Homo sapiens: one gene and its partners. The protein of the gene in region 2 interacts with the protein of the main gene of each other region in a biochemical or structural test. Each region holds a gene or a part of one and is shown on either strand. Other genes may lie near its edges.

Region 1 (4,853 bases), on a different chromosome or scaffold from region 2:
GGTTTAATTAAAATCTACTGTCTTGCTAGTTTGGTTTCATCTGTCCTTCATTCGTGGAGAAGAGACCATGAGTGAATACAAACTTCCTTTGTCTCTGGTTTCCGGGAGTTCTGTACGCTCATGTTAACTCACACTGGATCTTTAGCAATTTGTTAATAATTTTAGCTGAATTCTTCATAACAGCTAGTATGGGAGCCCCATCTTCCTCCATGCCCTGCTCCATGCAGGTGAGCCTGTGCTCATGTCTTGCCTTTGCTTGAAGGCACCTGTCTTTCCTTAGATTTCAAGTTTATTGCCCTGTGACTTTAGCTCTCTGAAGGGTTCAAGAGAAGTTATAATTTTGTGTATTATCTGGCCTCTTCTTGTTAGTCTCTACAGATTTCTAAACAAAGTGCAATAGACTGGGTGGCTTATAAGTAACATAAATTTATTTCTCACTGTTCTGGAGACCGGAAATCCAAGGTTAGGATACCAGCATGGTTGGGTTCTGGTGAGGAAACTCTTCTGGGTTGCAGACACCTCACTTGTTATTGTTTCCTCCTTATTGGAGGCAAGAGAGCTGAGAGCTCTCTCTGAGGCCTTTTTCATAAGGGCACTAATCCCATTCATGAGGGCTCCTCACTTCTGACCTAATTACCCCCCAAAAGTCCCTCCTCCAAATACCATCACATTGTGGTTAGGATTTCAACATTTGAGTTTTGGGGGGAGATAAAAAGTCCATTGCATGCCTCTTACGTGAATTTTAAAGATGATAAATAGTAAGGATTGCTATATTTGGATTGAAAGCAGTTTCAACCTGAATGTAAAAGATGCCTAAATATAGTAAAACTCTATTCCCAAATAGAGACTTCTGGGTGATGAAAAATAAAAAATAATTTTTTAAAACAAAAAAATGTATGATTCACACTGGGAATTATGTAAGATGTTTTAAAAGAGAGTAACAGATACAAGGATATGAAATGTGGTTAGTAAGAAACAAAATCATTCAGCAGGATGAGAAAATAGACCTAACTCAACTGACCAACTAAGAGTTATCTTTAGTTAGATTTACAGTCTTTCTGCCCAATTAAACATTTAAAATGTTACCAGGCTGAAACACAAATGTCAGGCACAAAACTCAAGATACTGCGGGATGTTGGTTTTTAAATAGTGCCATGATTTCTTCCAGATTACACCAGGAAGCAAGGCGGCAGCTGCCAACCTGTGTCCTGGAGATGTCATCCTGGCTATTGACGGCTTTGGGACAGAGTCCATGACTCATGCTGATGCGCAGGACAGGATTAAAGCAGCAGCTCACCAGCTGTGTCTCAAAATTGACAGGTGCTTCTTAACTAATGGTGCTTAAATCTGATCTGTTTTGCAGGAGAACCTGAACCAGAACTATAAATAACTTCATCCTCCCAGCAAGGAGGGCCACAGACCTAGTATTTTGGCTGACTTTTTATATATTAGCTACTTAATTCTTTACTAAAGTCAGTCAATCTAGCAGTTGTTGACAAATCATTTCTAAAAAGGATTCTCTGGAATGTTAGAATAATAAAAGAGGCTAAAAGAATTTGTTCCAGTAATAACCCGGTTAATTAACTATGAAAATAGAACTATTAGCCACATAAACACTGAACAACACAACTAGTTATATCACTGTTCTCAGTGTGGTAGAGAATGGAATGGAATGGAATGGAATGGAGAGATTCCCCTGAAATAATCTCTTGACTTGCCTGACTGTAATTATATTAAAACTGGTTGCTAATATCCTGTCTGCCATTGGCTGTTTTGTACAGAATTCAGCCCAGAAGAATGTTACAGGTGTGAGAGTGCATATGCACGTGGGCATGTGAAATACTGAGATGTTTCTGACCCCACCCCCCAAAAACACTAAGAAATTGAGCCTGATCTCTTGCCATCAGATCCCTGATCCAAAACTGAACCATGATAATAATAATTTGTTATAGTGGTTGTTAGTGTGTGTTTATCCTGTTATGATTGTACTCACAGTTTTCCGTGCTGTGGTACAGAAGGATCAATCAATCCACCAATCTGCCGTTTCCTTGGGGTGAAATAGATTCTTTCACTCTCTATGCATAACCTGTGTTCATGCCGAGCACACAGTCCCTTAGGAGCCACTAGGTCCCAGGCAGATGCATGAGAAGGGTTGGACAAAGCACATTTCCTTGATGCCAGTAACACATCCACCTGGCAGATCACTCACTGTCTTCTGCAGTGGCCTCAGTAGGACTGGAGGGAAGTAGGGAGGTCTAGGGAGCTTGCCTGGTGGTCATCTGCAGAGTGTGCCTGCAGAGTCTCCCTCTCCTGTTTCCCACATGCCTTGCAGGCCTCCTTCCTCCAGAAACTGTGCAGTGTACTCCAGGCAATTTTTATCTAGTCTGCCATACCCAAAAGGACATTAAAAATGTACGACTTCGGCCGGGTGTGGTGGCTCCCGCCTGTAATCCTAGCGCTTTGGGAGGCCGAACTGGGCGGATCACTTGAGGTCCAGAGTTCATGACCAGCCTGGCCAACTGGTGAAACCCCGTCTCTACTAAAAATACAAAAATTAGCCAGGCATGGTGGTGGGCACCTGTAATCCCAGCTACTCGGGAAGCTGAGGGAGGAGAATCGCTTGGACCCAGAAGGAGGAGGTTGCAGTGAGTCAAGATTTTGCCACTGCACTCCAGCCTGGTTGACAGAGGGAGACAACATTAAAAGAAAAAAAAAGGGGGGGGGAAGACTAATTATGTGGGAAAATACAGAATAATCAGCAAAAAAAAAAATTGTTTTTGCATAAGTTAGTGAGGTTTGCTAGTATTTTCACAAACATAATGGGAAACTAAAGTATGCTAAAACTGAAAGTACCATTAGAATTTGAAGTTTACAAATTTTATTTTATTTCCAGGGGAGAAACTCACTTATGGTCTCCACAAGTATCTGAAGATGGGAAAGCCCATCCTTTCAAAATCAACTTAGAATCAGAACCACAGGTATGCGTTTTAGAGCAAATGATACACATTGTATTTCCTTTTAAATCATGGGGATGCCTTCCAAGGGGAGGAAGAGACAAATAGAAAAATTGGAACAAGCCACCTATGAAGCTGTTGTCTGTCATTCCTCTCCGAGATTAATTTATATTATCCGTGTTTTCTTACATCAAGAAAAAGAAGTGTTCCTATGTGAACATCTTGTTGAAAGACAAAATATGCTCCCATCAGAAAGAATTTGGCTAAATCTACAGAGTCCACTTATTATTTTTTCATTTCTTATAATGGACTTCTGTGAAATGACCGTGAGGTAATCTAAGGAGTTTAAGTTGTTAAAACAAAGCAAAGCAAAAATAAGGTCTACCATTTGAAACAGGTGTCTCCAATCTACGGTTACTGTGAATTTCAGTCCTTCGAGGTCTTCACCCAGATCTCATTCTACATTCTTCTTTAATTCTCATTTCTGGGATTCTGTAATTAAATTTACTCTAAGAAAAGAGTGTTGCCTAGTGTGATGATGGTGATATTCTGCCGTTACAGCTGAATTATAAAAGATAAAGGATTTTCTCTGGAGGCAACTGTAATAAACTAAACTAATCATCTGATGCTTATCTATGTCTACTTTCAAAAGGCCCAAAAAACCTGAAATTAAATCAAATCTTGATTGTGATGTACTCATAAATCTAATTAAGAAAAGCATTTTATGACCTCTACATAGAAGCTCTAAAGGTTTAGAGATACAGATACATGAATTTACCATCCCTTTTGAAACACATGTTCCTGCTAAACTGATTAGATATTCCCAGCATGTAGTTGTTCTATATAACTGATGAAAGGGAACTGAAAACGTATTTGTAATTTATGTTTAGCAGTATTTCCCCTTTCAAGAAAATCAACTCCTGAATTTGTCCTTCAAGTTTTCTACTTGTCTCCATAAGCCTCTGATTTCTTTTGTGAAAAGATGTTGAATAACATCAGTACATGTGTCTCCTAGGGCTTCTCAAAAATTAGAATAAAATAATACAAGCAGAGAAGTTGGCACATTGAGTTATTCATAGAAATACTCAAGTAAGTGGTAGCTGTCCTTATTATCAGTACGTTACCCCCACCCCAGGCTGGGATCCGAAAGTCTCCTGGCGTTTCTTGCTGGTGAGATAGTTAGCTGCCTACATGATAGGACATCCTAGAGGCTAGGAATGCCTTCTTCATTGCTATTACGAGGGTCGTGACAAATGGAACAAAGCTTTATTTTCAGTTAAAATATAATCTCTCCTGGAGAAGAAGGATCCTGAGTAATGTAATCTTTAGAGGAAATGAGTTTATTAGATTGTTGTCGTAGAGTTTTGACTAAAGGGAAGGTAGAGTCTGAATCTAAAATCCACTAAAAGCAAAAGTAGGAGAAAATAAGCCCCAAAAGGAGTGAGCAGGACAGAGAATATGTTCATGAAGGCAGGAACCTTGAGGCTGTTGTCTTCCCTCTGAGTCCCTCCAGCTCAATAAATAGCCCACAGCTCAATAAATAGCTGACAAATGGATGAAAGGAACTGGAGGGCCTAAAAATGAGCTGTGCATTTTCTAACATTGCCAGGACCTGTCCTGGGAGCCAGTTCTCAAAATGGTGTTCTGCCATCACTCTCAGCTGTTGCATGGAAAGTAATCTTGAAAGTTGAGTGGGGCCAGGCGCATTGACTCACACCTATAATCCTTTGGGAGGCAGAGGCAAAAAGATTGCTTGAGCCCTGGAGTTTGAGACCAGCCTGGGCAACATGGTGAGACCCCATTTCTATAAATTTTAAAAATTAACCAGGGCATGTTGGTACACACCTGTAAGTCCCAGCTACACAGAAGGCTGAGGTGGGAGGAGTGCTTGAGCCCAGG
Region 2 (4,853 bases):
GTCCTGGCAAAATACTGTTCTAGAAAAGTAGTCCTAGTGACTCAGTAGATATAGGAAGTTGGCTGTTGGTATCAGATACTGTTAAGGAAGAATCTCTATATTCTTCATTTCTTAAACTTTGTTTTTTAAATCAGTAATAGATGTCGAATTTTATCAACTGATGTTTTTCATGTAATGAAATTCTATTTTTTATTTTGAATTATTCATGTGGTAATTTAGGTGAATAAATTTCCTGTAATTAACCAATTGTTGCATCTTTTAGAATAATTCTAATCATAGAGCAAGAGTTAATTTGGATTTGCTAGCATTTACTTAGAATTTTTATAATCTATGGGCTTGATCTGAAGTTTTCCTTTCTGTGCTATCTTTGTGCTGTTTTGTTACCAAGATAATGTTATTTTTGTCAAACTAATGGAGACAATGATTATCTGTTTCCATTATCGGCTATCTTTCCTCAAAGAATATCCCTTGATAAAGCACTTCTGGTGCATCATCTATCCTTAGTATCTTTGTTTAGGGAATAGTTTCAGAGTATTTTTGATAATGTCTTTCTTGGCTATTTTCTCTTCTGGTTTTTATCAATATAGGTAATGAATATTTGCTAGAAACTTATCCATTAAGTCAAGATATTAAACTTACTTCAACATTCGATGCATCTTTTTATGTTTTATACTCCTAAATATCTGTGTTTTATCTCATTAATATTATGTATTTATATCTTTGTTTTTTGTCTTGATTAACATTATTAGCTCTTTGTTTTGCTTATTTTTTGTTTTTAAATTTTTCTCTTTCACTCACTCTTCTTTTTCAATTAAAAAATTAAAGTTATGAATGCTTATAAAATGAATCCAAAAGCCTAATAATAATTTTTTTGAAACCAGACCCTTGTCTCATCCTTTCCTTTAGTCAATTCCCACTCCCTAGAGGAATCCACTTAATTTTTAAATTGTTGAAGTCCTCTGATGTTTTAACTTCATATTATTAATACAAAGCAAATCGTTTATACTATTACTTGATTTTTCAGTTTGAGAAAGTATGAATTGAAATGGTGAGGGATGAGGTTTAGTGAACACAAAACAAGCATTGCATAAAGTCAAGGTGATATACTCAGTCAGAATAGATTTCTGCCACAATACATGAAATTTGACTCCTAACATTATTCCTTTAGGAATAACATTATTCCACTCCTATTATGTGGATATAGAAGTCCTCTATTAATGTACAATTGGGTCATCTGATAATATTAGGGAGATTGAGAAATACTTTGTTTGTTGAATTCCTTGATTTAGGTTAGATTATCAGGCAGGCACTGAGCCATGTGGAATCCTAAAGAAGTAGGGGCACAGGATATGTAAATATTGATGTGAACAGGGAGAAAATAGGTTCAGTGTGTGATCCTGTCCTGTGAGGGGCGGTGGGAAATTGAGCATGGGAAGCAAGGCTGTCTTTTTTACTTTAAGGCTGATCAAAGACTGTTCTTTCACCTGAATTAAATCTAAGGCACAAATCATGTTGCTCCCTTATTTATCAAACAAAAACAATACACAAATTGGACCTCTTCTTTTTTGTCATATTTTAAGGCTCACATTGGGTGCTACAGGAATCATAAGGTGGTACAGGGACCTATAATGAATGTAAAACTTCTATTTGTTTTGCTAAGAAGATAGATTTAAAGGCTTTAAAGACTTTATCCTAATGAATCAATATTCAAATAGTTGAATTCCTCTTCTTCCTTTCCTGCTTGCTCCTAGTTTAAACTGGCAAGACCACAAAGTTAGCAAAATTCTGCCTCATTATTTATTCCAAAGGCAACACTTAAATTTATTCTTTGCCATAATGAGGCTTAAACTGGGCAGATTGAGAAAGAATGCTGGCTACAGAGTTCCAATAGCAGGATTAGTTAATCAGATATCCTGGTTGATTTTAATTGAAAACATTTGCCAACTTACTGTGACAACAAAAGGTAGATTCACTTTAAATTGCGTCTATAGAATTGTGGTATACTGTTGAATAAAAAAATTTAATAAATTGCGTAGTATTTATTTATTTTTACTTTAAAAACTAACTTTGACAGATCAGAGTCAAGGAATGTGTTTATAATGGACACTTCATCCAAAGAAAATATCCAGTTGTTCTGCAAAACTTCAGTGCAACCTGTTGGAAGGCCTTCTTTTAAAACAGAATATCCCTCCTCAGAAGAAAAGCAACCATGCTGTGGTGAACTAAAGGTAGAGCAACCAAGAAGTAAATAGTGTTGATGCTCTTAGTTTTCTGTCCAGATATCATCTATATAATGAAGTTAGAATGAGAATTGTTTTCTCCTTTAAAAAAAAAAAAAGATCTTAGATGCAATTTACTAAAACCACACCTTGCCAGGCGGTGCAAGCAATCTCTACCTGACCATGTGGGTTAAATTACTTTCCTGGGCTCATTTAAATGCCCCCCCAAACAGAAAAGAGAGAAATAGTAGAAACTAGTATTTATTGAACTTCTGCCATGTGCCAGATATTAAGCCAAGCACAGATATAACATTTAATTTGTGAAACATCACATTACTCCCATTTTGCAAATAAAAATGGGAATAATGTTACAGAGTAGGGAGAAGAGTTGCTTTTTTTTTTTTTTAGGATTGTTGTATCAAACAATAGTTTTTAGTTTTTTGAGGAACCTCCATACTATTATATTTTCCAAAGAGACTACATCAACTTATGTAACCACTAACCATGTACAAAGATTCCCTTTTCTTTACATTCTAACCAGTTTTTATTTTTTGTTATAGCCAACAGATGTGAAGTGATATGTCATAAAGATTTTTATTTGCATCTCCATAATGACTAGTGATGTTGAGCACCTTTTTCATATACCTGTTGGCCATGCCTTCTTTTAAGTAATGTCTATTTAGATTATTTGCCCATTGTTAAAATCATGCTATTTTTCTTTGCTATTTAGTGATAGAAGTTTCTTTTTTTTAATTATTTTTTAATTATTATACTTTAAGTTCTAGGGTACATGTGCACACGTGCAGGTTTGTTACATACGTATACATGTGCCATGTTGGTGTGCTGCACCCGTTAACTCGTCATTTACATTAGGTATATCTCCTAATGCTGTCCCTCCCCGCTCCCCCAATCCCCCGAGAATAGTTGTTTCTTAAGGGATGCTTTGTGTGCTCCTATTCTTTCTTTATACAAATATTCACTCAACAAATCTCTGCTTTTTTCATATAAATGCTAACCTTCCCTATGAATGTTCTATCACAGACCCATGTCTATCAAAATATATAAGCTAGATATCAAAGACATGTTTTCCATTGAGAAAAATATTTGACTATGAATTTAATAAGTATAAACATAAACACAAGGAATAATAGTTGCACTTTTTCAGTCTGTACATTATGTTCCCGGCTGGTGCATGCACCACCCTGTGAAATACATAATCCCAAGTGCTGGACTTGTTATAGGATGTCAAGTGTTTGGCTTATGGTTTCATTTACTTTCTTACCAATGAATGTCTCACCATACACTGACTCTTCAATGTAAGACTCCTTTGAGTGCCCCTCTGGAGCAGAGTGGAAGAAGACAAAAGATAATTCAATACACATTTCGCATAAAAACCAAATATATATTTTAAATTCCAAGAGAATTTGAACTGTTGAAAACTTACAGTGCTTAAGGCTGATGGAAACCTCGAACAGTGTTTGAATTAAAGTTTCAGTGATAATAAAGTTGATATTATACATTGTTCTTTGTTGTTTGTTTTGTATTTGTTTGTCTATTTACTTAGTTTCCAATTGTGTGTCAAGCTGGAGTCAGACTAAGTGTGACCTGTCATATTTTCCAGGTGTTCTTGTGTGCCTTGTCTTTTGTTTACTTTGCCAAAGCATTGGCAGAAGGCTATCTGAAGAGCACCATCACTCAGATAGAGAGAAGGTTTGATATCCCTTCTTCACTGGTGGGAGTTATTGATGGTAGTTTTGAAATTGGTAGGTATTACAGATGCCTGACTTTAATTTTAAGCCCAAGATCTTCTAGGTGTGGCTAAAGAACACCTTCTGCATTCTATTGTCTGCTGGGATCAGACTCTATTCATAAAATCTTTTTTTTTTTTTTTGGACAGAATTTACCATGATCTTATTCTACAGGAGAGGCAATTTTCTCAGAGCAATCAACAGTAAATTTTTCTCCCCAGGTGTTTGGTATTGTATGGTTCACACAATTCAGAGTTCTACATCAGAGTAAGTGACTTTCTTGGAGGAAAGGGTGAGATGCTAATTGGTATTTTGAGTTATAAATATGTAGAAGTATCTTTACAGAAGAACAATACACCCTGGGAGCACTATGATTCAATTTTAGAGGTGTGGAATAATCCAAATGCGCTCTACAAGAATTTACTGCAATGATGAATAGAAGTTACATCATAAAAGGGATTTTTCCACCCAGTGGTCTAGAAAGAAGAATAAAGGGATTCTATTACCAAGAACACAAGATCAGAGCAGGCAATAAAAATTCAAATCTCAGGTGCCTTTGGTTAGCAATTGACTACAGACTCCTTAGAAATTAAAAAGATCGAGTAATTTGAGTCACTGTTTTAGAAGTAATTTAAAGAGGATAATCCTAGTTAGTCTGCTTCCTGAATTGATAAACTAAAAGGCTTTAATTTTTTGCTGAAGTAAACGAAATAGTACCCTCTCTGGTCCTTAAGGCTTGTTTAGATTCAGATATACACCATAGTAAAACCTCTAACTGCTCCAATTTTAGCTTTACCTGGTGAACTTTCAGAAAAGTGAATAAATATTTTTCAACTCTTTAACAATTTATTTCTTTTCATACATACTATGTGTTTTGGTTCTTACT
Region 3 (4,853 bases), on a different chromosome or scaffold from region 2:
TTTACTGAGCCACCTCCTACGAACCGCGGGCAGGGGCTGTTTTACTGGCAGGGAAACTTAGGTGCAGAGGAAAGCCGGCTGCCCACGTCTCTTAGTGGAGTGAGAGGCAGGAAACTGGGTCTCAGGACACCCTCCCTCCACACACATCAGGGCGGCCACGTTGGGGACACACGACTATTTTTACTTTGGTGGGCTCCAGGCTGCCCACGTCGTGATCTGGGTGTTCGCCATAGCAACCAGTGACGCCATCGGCCCCTACAGCCAATTGGAGGGGGCCGGAAGCTGCTGGGCTGCCGGATGACCCAGCTGGGAGGGCAAGGTCTCCCGGGAGAGGCGGGGAAGGGTCGCGGGGGTGTGGCGTTACCCCAGGCCTGACTTCAGCTGCTCTGCGCTCAGAAAACCAAGCTGTCACGATGGGAGGAGAATAATCTACCCCTCGAAGGTCTCTCTGACTGCTTGAATATGTCTGAGGACAGACAACTCACGGCGTTTAGTTCAAGCAGTCATGGTGATGGAACCATCACCACCATCACCGTGGCCATTAGGGTCTCCTTCTTCCCCTTCCAATAGTTGTGGGAATTTTTTTTTTTTTTTTTTTTTTTTTTTTTTTTTTTTTTTTGAGACAGCGTCTGGCTATGTCGCCCAGACTGGAATGCAGTGGTGCAATCTTGGCTCACTGCAACCTCCGCCTCCAGAGTAGCTGGGATTGTGGGCATGTGCCACCACACCCGGCTAATTTTTGTATTTTTTATAGAGATGAGGTTTCACCATGTTGCCCAGGCTGGTCTTGAACTCCTGGTCTCAAGTGATCCACCTGCCTTGGCCTCCCAAAGTGCTGGGATTACAGGCATGAGCCACTGCACCCAGCCAGTTGTGGGATCTTATACCACTTCCTCCACTACCCCACGTGAAACAGGGAGGGATTTGAACCCTGGTGGGGGGTCCCACTTGCACCCCATCCAGGCATTTCCTTCCAAAACTCTGACAGTCCTAGGTTCCCAGTCTGGCTCCCCCACTCCTGCACTGTGTGACCCGACAAGTGACTTAACCCCTCTGTGCCTCAGTTTTCTCATTTGGAAAATGGCCCAGTGACATAGGGTCCCTGGAGGAATCAATGAGTAGCAAGCTCAGAGCCTGGTGCTGGGGGAGACTTGGATGGATGGGAGTCAAGACAATGATCAAGACGTGAATAATAACCACCAGTTGAAAGTTGCTTCCAAAAGACAAAAAGATGTGAATATTTTGTTTGTTTGTTTGTTTTCAGATGGAGACTTGCTCTGTCGCCCAGGCTGGAGGGCAATGGTGCGATCTTGTCTCACTGCAACCTCCACCTCCTGGGTTCAAGCGATTCTTCTGCCTCAGCCTCCCAAGTAAGCTGGGATTACAGGCGCCCACCACCACGCTTGGCTGATTTTGTATTTTTAGTAGAGATAGGATTTCACCATGTTGGTCTGGCTGGTCTTGACCTCCTGACCTCAAGCAGTCCTCCCATCTCGGCCTCCCAAAACGCTGGATTACAGGCATGAGCCACTGTGCCTGGCCTGAAGATGTTTTTTTAAAGTGGCAGAGAGAGGTGAGGCAAAATCGGCAGCTCCCTGCAAAGGCTCCCGGGGAAGCTGGACCACACAGAACTCTCCTGGCACCACTCCCGGACCCTTCGGTCCCCGCACCATCTGCTTTCCACCCACAGCTCCCTCTGTGCCTGCTGTTCCCCTGGGAGTGGTTCCCACCCAGAGGAGTGGAGGTTGGGGAGGCCCCGACCCCCTGAAACTGCCCTTTAAAGGTAATATTTATGGTATACCCGTCTGCGCTTGCCCAGGCTGGGGGATGCTGCCTCCCCAACAAGCTTTAGCCCCACCTTGAGGAAATCCCATTTTGGAGAAGACATAGCACAGCAGGAGCACCCCCATACTGGAGGGATTAAGAGAGACCCGAAGCAGCTGGGTGCTGTGGCTCATGCCTGTAATCCCAGCACTTTGGGAGGCTGAGGCGGGAGGATCACTTAAGATCAAGAGTTTGAGCCAGGTGCGGTGGCTCACGCCTGTAATCCCAGCACGCTGGGAGGCCAAGGTGGGCGGATCACAAGGTCAGGAGTTCAAGATCAGCCTGGCCAACATAGTGAAACCCCGTCTCTACTTAAAATACAAAAATTAGCTGGATGTGGTGGCAGGCGCCTGTAGTCCCAGCTACTCGGTAGGCCGAGGCAGGAGAATCCCTTGAACCCCGGAGGCGGAGGTTGCAGTGAGCCAAGACCACACCATTGTACTCCAGCCTGGGTGACAGAATGAGACTCCGTCTCAAAAAAAAAAAAAAAAAAGGTGGCCGGGCGCAGTGGCTCATGCCTGTAATCCCAGGACTTTGGGAGGCTGAGGCAGGCAGATCACCTGAGGTCAGGAGTTCGAGACCAGCCTGACCAACATGGAGAAACCCCGTCTCTACTAAAAATACAAAATTAGCAGGATGTGGTGGCGCATGCCTGTAATCCCAGCTACCTGGGAGGCTGAGGCAGGAGAATCGCTTGAACTCGGGGGCAGAGGTTGCGGTGAGCCGAGATCGTGCCATTGCACTCCAGCCTGGGCAAGAAGAGCGAAAGAGTGAAACTCCGTTTCAAAAAAAAAAGGCCAGGCGCAGTGGCTAACACCTGTAATCTCAGCACTTTGAGAGGCCGAGGTGGGAGGATCACGAAGTCAGCAGATGGAGACCATCCTGGCTAACACGGTGAAAGCCCGTCTCTGCTAAAAATACAAAAAATTAGCCGGGTGTGGTGGCAGGAGCCTGTAGTCCCAGCTACTCGGGAGGCTGAGGCAGGAGAATGGCATGAACCTGGGAGGTGGAATGAGCGGAGATCACGCCACTGCACTCCAGCCTGGGCGACAGAGCAAGACTCCGTCTCAAAAAAAAAAAAAAAAAAAAAAAGAGTTTGAGGCCATTCTGGCCAACATGGTGAAACACCATCTCTACTAAAAAATATAAAAATTATATTAGTCGGGTGTGGTGGCGCTCGCCTGTAATCCAGCTACTCAGGAGGCTGAGGCTGTGAGAATCGCTTGTATCCAGGTGACGGAGCCTGCAGTGAGCCAAGATGGCGCCACTGCACTCCAGCCTGGGCCACCGCACTCCAGCCTGGGCGACAGGGCAAGATCCTGTCTAAAAAAAGAGAGACTCAAAGGGAGAAGAGGGGTTGGAGGCACACAGAGAGGAGAGCTAAGGGGCTTCCTGGAGTAGGGGGTGTCAAACAAAGCCTGCAGGCACATGGAAAACACCAGTCCATGCCCAGCAAACAGCACGTGCAAAGGGAGGTGAGACTCAGCCTGCTGGGCACCAAGCCCGGTTGGAAGTTCGATGCCCCTGGAATTAAATGGGAGAGAAGTCAGCATGGACCACATGGCACCAGCCCCAGGGCTTCCAGGAGGAGGAGGAGGAGGAGGAGAAGGAGAAGGAGGAGGAGGAGGAGGAGGAGGAAAATAAGTGGAAGCTGTCCATGAGAAAGCAGGATCACCTTGGAGGGCTGAACCTAGAGGAGCCACCCCAGTAGCGGCAGAGACAAAAGTCCAGATACAGGCTCTAGCCCTTCTCTGCCGGGGGATGCTCTGTTTGTGGGACCTGGTGTTTTGAAATTCGGTCATGTGTAAAGCAAAGGTCCAAGTAGGAGATGATAAATGTAATAAGATAATAGTAGTAGTAGTAATAACAGCTCACGTTACCCGGTGCCTGCACACGTTATGCGTGAGGCTGAGTTTAACCCAAATTGGGAAGGTCTCCACCTCCTCCCTGGACCCAGGGCTGTCGCAAACTGGCCGCCCGCGGGCCAGGCCGGATCCTTTTTCAGACCTTTCCTGCACACAGCCAACAGCACGCCTCACATTGTCACCACCGGAGAGGACGCCCTGGGCTATGCGTCTGGATTGGCCGGTCAGCACCCGTTTGTGAATGGACTCTTTGGCCTTTGGCCTCCAGGAAATCTGATTGGCTCGCATCAGCGATCTACCCCCTGATTGGCTGGGGTGCTCCTGGACCATTAACAAGGTTTCCAGTCAAAAGAGACCCCAAACTGGGGCTGATGAAGACAACACCTTCACGTGCCAGATTGGTTAGAATTTCTCTGGCTTCCTGGTGGGTACTTCCCTCTTTGGGCCTCAGTTTCTTCCTTTGAAAAGTGGAACTAATAATAGCACTGACCACTCGGGCTGTTGGGAGAATTGAATGCATGAGAGGGCTTAGCCTGTTAATATGAACGGTTATTCCCACTTTACTATTATTTTATTATTATTTTAATCTTCTTCCACTTGGACCTTTATTTTTATTTTTGAGATAGGGTCTCGTGATCATGGCTCACTATAGCCTCAAACTCCTGGGCTCAAGAGATCCTTCTTGGCTGGGCGCGGTGGCTCACGCCTGTAATTCTAGCACTTTGGGAGGCCGAGGTGGGCGGATCACCTGAGATCAGGAGTTTGATACCAGCCTGGCCAACATGGCGAAACCCCGTCTCTACTAAAAATACAAAAATTAGCCGGGCGTGGTGACATGTGCCTGTAATCCCAGCTACTCGGGAGGCTGAGGCAGGGAGAATTACTTGAACCCGGGAGGTGGAGGTTGCAGTGAGCCGAGATTGCGCCACTGGACTCCAGCCTGGGTAACAGAGCATGATTCTTTCTCAAAAAAAAAAAAAAGAGAGAGAGAGAGAGATCCTTCTGCCTCAGCCTCCTTGAGTAGCTGGGACTACAGTCATGAGCCACCACACCTGGTACACTTAGACTTTCATTCCATGCTCCTTCCTGGCTTCCTGCCCTTTTTGATTCCCCCACTCCTGCTCCTAGCCCTCCAGAGGAGTCTTCCCAGCCCCTCAATATGGG
Region 4 (4,853 bases), on a different chromosome or scaffold from region 2:
TGAAATTGATCCTTTTAATTAAGCCAAATTTGACTTCAGGGAAAGGGAATCTGGTTTTTGAAAAGCAGTTACTATACTGCCATTTTATACATTCAAAACTCAATGTTTTCTGCCAATGCATTTACTAACAATAAATTTTGTTATTTTTTTTTGAGTTTCAATCTCAACCCCTCGTCTATAATATGTGGGCACCAAACTAGAGAGAATTAAGGCCCCTCCCAACCTACCATTCTGAAGTCCTTGAATAATGGTACCAACTTGCTTTTGTGAAAACTGTTAAATGAAGAAAAATCAGACATTTATCCTGCCTTTCCTGTCTAAACCATATGTCAAGGTTACCAGAGGTGAGGGGGAGCTTCTTTTTATGAAAGTAGTCTAACTGAAATATTGAGAAAGACTGACAGAATTGGAATATCACCATTTTGCAGTCCCTTAATGAATTAATGGATTTAGGCAATGATCATCAATAACTGTTAATATCACAAAAAGAAAAACAGCAGATAATATGTTGTTCCTGATGGAAGCACACAGACCACCTATAAAATATGTTTGATAGGCCTCAAGATCTAACTACCAACTCACAGGAAACACCACTGAAAGGGGGGCACGTTAAATGAATTCTGGCTCCTTTTACAGAACTAAAAGAACAAACCATAGAGATATTTAGTTCTATCCTATCATTTCACAAGAAGGAAAGTAGAGGACCCAAGAGAATGTAAGTATGTATTAGCCCCTGTTCCAGTCATCTATTGTTGCATAATAAGTCATCCAAACAATTTTTTTTTTTTTTTTTGAGACAGAGTCTCACTGTGTTCCCCCAGGCTGGAGTGCGGTGGTACAATCTTGGCTCATTGCAACCTCTGCCTCCCAGGTTCAAGTGATTCTCGTGCCCCAGCCTCCCCAGCAGCTGAGATTACAGGCATGCACCACAAGGCCCAGCTAAGTTTTGTATTTTTTAGTAGACACGGGGTCTTGCCATGTTGGCCAGGCTGGTCTCAAACTCCTGGCCTCAAGTGATCTGCCCACCTTGGCCTCCCAAAGTGCTGGGATTACAAGTGTTAGCCACCACGCCAGGCCTATCCAAATAATTCTGAGGCTTAAAACAACAACAGTTGGCCAGGCACGGTGGCTCACGCCTGTAATCCCAGCACTTTGTGAGGCTGAGGCGGGTGGATCACCTGAGGTCAGGAGTTCAAGACCAGCCTGACCAACATGGTGAAACTCCATCTCTACTAAAAAATACAAAAAAATTAGTCAGGCATGGTGGTGGGTGCCAGTAATCCCAACTACTCAGGAGGCTGAGGCAGAAGAATCGCTTGAACCCGGGAGGTAGAGGTTGAAGTGAGCCAAGATGGTGCCATTGCACTCTAGCCTGAGTGACAACAGCAAAACTCCATCTCAAAAATAAATAAATAAATAAATAAAATAAAAAATAAAAAAATAACAACAACAATAATTTATCATCTCTCCTGGTTCTGGGGTTAACTGGGGTCAGCTGTGGTTCTCACTTGGGATTCCTCATGCAGTTACAGGCAGATGGTGGTTGGGGCTGGAGTCATCTTAAAGGCTTCTCACTCACATCTGGTGGCGAGGGCTTCAGTTGGGGCTATCAGCTGGATCACTGGTGTCTTGACCTCTTCACACAATGGTGACTGGGTTCTAAGGGCAAGTATCCCCAAAATAACCAGGCAGAAGCTGCATCACCTTTTATGATCCAACCTCTTAAGTCACATGGCACCAATTAAGCTGTAGTCACCGGCCCACCCAGATTCAATGACACAGAGCACAACTCTCCATGGGAGGAGTATCAACACTACATTTTAAGAAAGTGTGCAGATCCTGTTGAGATCATTCTGGAACACATACTTTGCCACAGATGCCCTTCTTACAAGATTCCATATGATCCTCCTTGTAAACCCCTATGATGACACTTATCAGACAGTGAGGAGCTGCCTGCCTATCTGTAACCCGTCTCTTCCACTAAAACATAGCTCCTTTCAAGAAATAATTGGATCAGTAAAGTAATCTTTGTATTCCTGGCACTTAGCAGATGCTAAAAAAACAAACTGTCAAATCAGTGAACAAACAAATGAAATTCAGATTTAAAGTTGGAAATATTTGTAAATTTATCTGTAAATGTTCTTCATTTAAACCTCTTATGCTAGATAAACTTAAAAGACTGTCAGCTTTTAGAACTGTTATTACTTTTAAATTTTAGTAATAATATATCCTCAAATTTTACTCATTTATCTTTAAGTAATTAGATTGCTACTAACTCAAACATTGTATCTAACAGCTTAAAATTTATCAGCAACACAAAATGTTCATCTTAATATATATTCAGAATAATTTGTGGGTTTATTTTTCTTGAAAATTGGTGGGCTATTTTATGACAGATATATTTTATGACACACGCCCTTAAAAGGAAATTTATATATAACACCACTGTTGCAAAATATGCCAAATGAAACAGTTGAAAACCACTCCAAGAACTTAGTGTACTCAAGTGCAAACATACAATTTAAAAGTATTTTTATTCATAAATTATATATTTTTGTATCCTGTTACTGGATATAGCCATTCAAACCTAAATTATCACTCTATGATCAACGTTTTTTTTCTTGTCAGCAAATATAACCAAGATGAAATAAAATTATATAATTCAAAACTTGAAAATTAGGTAAGCTATTTCTTGGCCTGAACAAGGCACACACATACTCAACACACTGAACTGGTCATTTTAAGAACACTGTGCCTTGTAGTGCACCATGTGTAACCATTTCTCTACTGTACCAAATGTCATTAATCAGTTCTTTATCTGTGGAGACTGTATATAATTGTTTTTATCACATTTCCCGCAAGGTGTCATCATTAATCAAGATCTCTGTAAACAGGGATGGATGTGTACCAGCAACACTTACCAATGAGTACCTGACCGCTCTTCATAGCAGATCCCCCTGGCAGCAGGCCATGAACCACAAGCCTCTCTCCATCACCCTGCTTTCCGGTTCTTCTCCAGCTCCACTTGGTCTGATGAATAATTCCAACCAGCACTTCCAGAAGCTTGAGCTGCTCTTTGGCTTTGATAACAGTTAGCTTTTTGGGGTTTACATAAACATTCACATCTTTGTATCGCTGTTGGACAATGACTCCTGTCTTCTGATTGGACTGATGCTTTAGAATGGATACTGGTCCATTGTCATTGCTATTTTTTTTATTGCAGCGCTTGGGTAAAAGTCTTTTCCTTCTTAAAATTTTGGTAAACTGCTTGAGTTTGGGTTCATACTTTTTTCTTTCTTTGTAGTCATCTTCAATGATAATCTCATTTTCACTGAACCTGACATGGTTCACAGTTGGTGTCTCAGGAAGGAGGCTTTCTTCTTCATCCTCACTCAATTCCAAATAAAACAGCTCTCCATTTTTCTGCACACTGTCCAGCCATTCAGGCTCAAGATCACTATGAAAGAGAGAAAAGATAATCTTAATAGCAGCCCAATATATAAAAGAAAGGTATGTCATCCTGGCATGGGGGTGAGGGTTGGGGCTGGGGAGCAGGAAGATGGGAAAGGGTGAAACTTCTTTATTATTTCAAATTATCCTTACTATTTCTAATTTATTGTGATCCTCAACATTATTTCATATAGGATGCTTTTTTTGTAGAGCTTTGAATAGGAGTTGGGGGAGAAGGAATCAAAAAGGCATAGCAATAGAAAGGAAAACCAATGAAAAAAGAGATGGTCCCCTTATAGAATCTATGAGTTGAAAAAAATTAAATCAACCACTGTGTGGTTACTGCTCACTTTAAACAATTTCACTGAATGATAATTTGCATTAGCAGTTGATTATGCAATTATATCCACACAAGCATGCCATTTGGAAATTGTACATGAAAATCTATTATTTGCATAGAAATTATTTAGGATGGCTGTCAGGTTAAAATGAAAGCTAAAGCCAGCTTTAACAGACTTTTACATAAGTTTTCAAAAAAGAAACATTCACTTCACCATGAACTAAAATCTGTCCTGAAAACAACCCATTTATAATCACAGTTAATATAGTAATGATCACTTTACTGTCTATAATTTCCATAAAACTCCTTTTTATGAAAAATTGTAGTAGAAAAAAAAAAGCACATATTACATAATTCATCGTGATTATAAAAAATATTTTTAACTGGGAAGTATGCCACTGAAAAAAAAAACAAAATTACTGCTATTAAAATGATTGAAATAGCATTAAGGAGCAAAAATACTCATGGTAACAAACCTAAACTCTACCCTGTTCAATGTTATGAACAGTTTACCTTTCAAACTGCTATTCTTTAAAGTGAAACTAGTAATAGTGGAAAAATTAACATGTAGAGAGTCTTTTCAGAAACATGAGCTGTAATATCCCGGCCTGAAAGAGTATAATTTGTGTTGTAATCATTAAATCAGATAGAAGACATTTCTGTTTTCTGCAGTGTTTATTAGCAACTCCAGTTCTCTTAACTTAAAAGTCAAATGTCTCTTTCTAAACACTTTGAAAATTAGCCCCCAAAATATACTATTCTATTACTCAACTCAAACTAACCACTGCCCTGGTCTGTGGCTGGTCATTAATACAGAATTTTCAGCTACATATGAGTCATTTTTAAAAATGCCTAACAAGCTGAAAATATCAAAACTAACATTTCTTTGGGACTTGTTGGTTCCCAGTGTGTGGCATCATCATAGGCACTAAGCCTCACTTATTGCAGATTATCAACCAAATATCACTTATTTCAACAATACCTATCTGTACCCACAGAATCAATATTTAAATAACTATGCAGTTCTACTCTTGAGAGTCTAAATAACTATATCCCCACCATA

Evidence for each region. Proteins that work in one complex are often made in the same cells at the same time.
Region 1: the proteins of SLCO1C1 (region 2) and PDLIM3 interact in a test that uses a peptide from one of them, tested with the Homo sapiens proteins (one large-scale study listed by IntAct).
Region 3: the proteins of SLCO1C1 (region 2) and MAST3 interact in a test that uses a peptide from one of them, tested with the Homo sapiens proteins (one large-scale study listed by IntAct).
Region 4: the proteins of SLCO1C1 (region 2) and INTU interact in a test that uses a peptide from one of them, tested with the Homo sapiens proteins (one large-scale study listed by IntAct).

The regions. Positions count from the first base shown.
Region 1 is NC_000004.12:185,521,487-185,526,339, reverse strand, and holds part of PDLIM3 (PDZ and LIM domain protein 3), read left to right. Parts: intron 1-1,168; coding exon 1,169-1,320; intron 1,321-2,893; coding exon 2,894-2,978; intron 2,979-4,853. UniProt on the Homo sapiens protein: May play a role in the organization of actin filament arrays within muscle cells.
Region 2 is NC_000012.12:20,697,478-20,702,330, forward strand, and holds part of SLCO1C1 (solute carrier organic anion transporter family member 1C1), read left to right. Parts: intron 1-2,074; 5' UTR 2,075-2,099; coding exon 2,100-2,228; intron 2,229-3,840; coding exon 3,841-3,982; intron 3,983-4,853. UniProt on the Homo sapiens protein: Mediates the Na(+)-independent high affinity transport of organic anions such as the thyroid hormones L-thyroxine (T4), L-thyroxine sulfate (T4S), and 3,3',5'-triiodo-L-thyronine (reverse T3, rT3) at the plasma membrane.
Region 3 is NC_000019.10:18,099,946-18,104,798, reverse strand, and holds part of MAST3 (microtubule-associated serine/threonine-protein kinase 3), read right to left. Parts: intron 1-4,853.
Region 4 is NC_000004.12:127,642,125-127,646,977, reverse strand, and holds part of INTU (protein inturned), read right to left. Parts: intron 3,458-4,853; coding exon 2,922-3,457; intron 1-2,921. UniProt on the Homo sapiens protein: Plays a key role in ciliogenesis and embryonic development.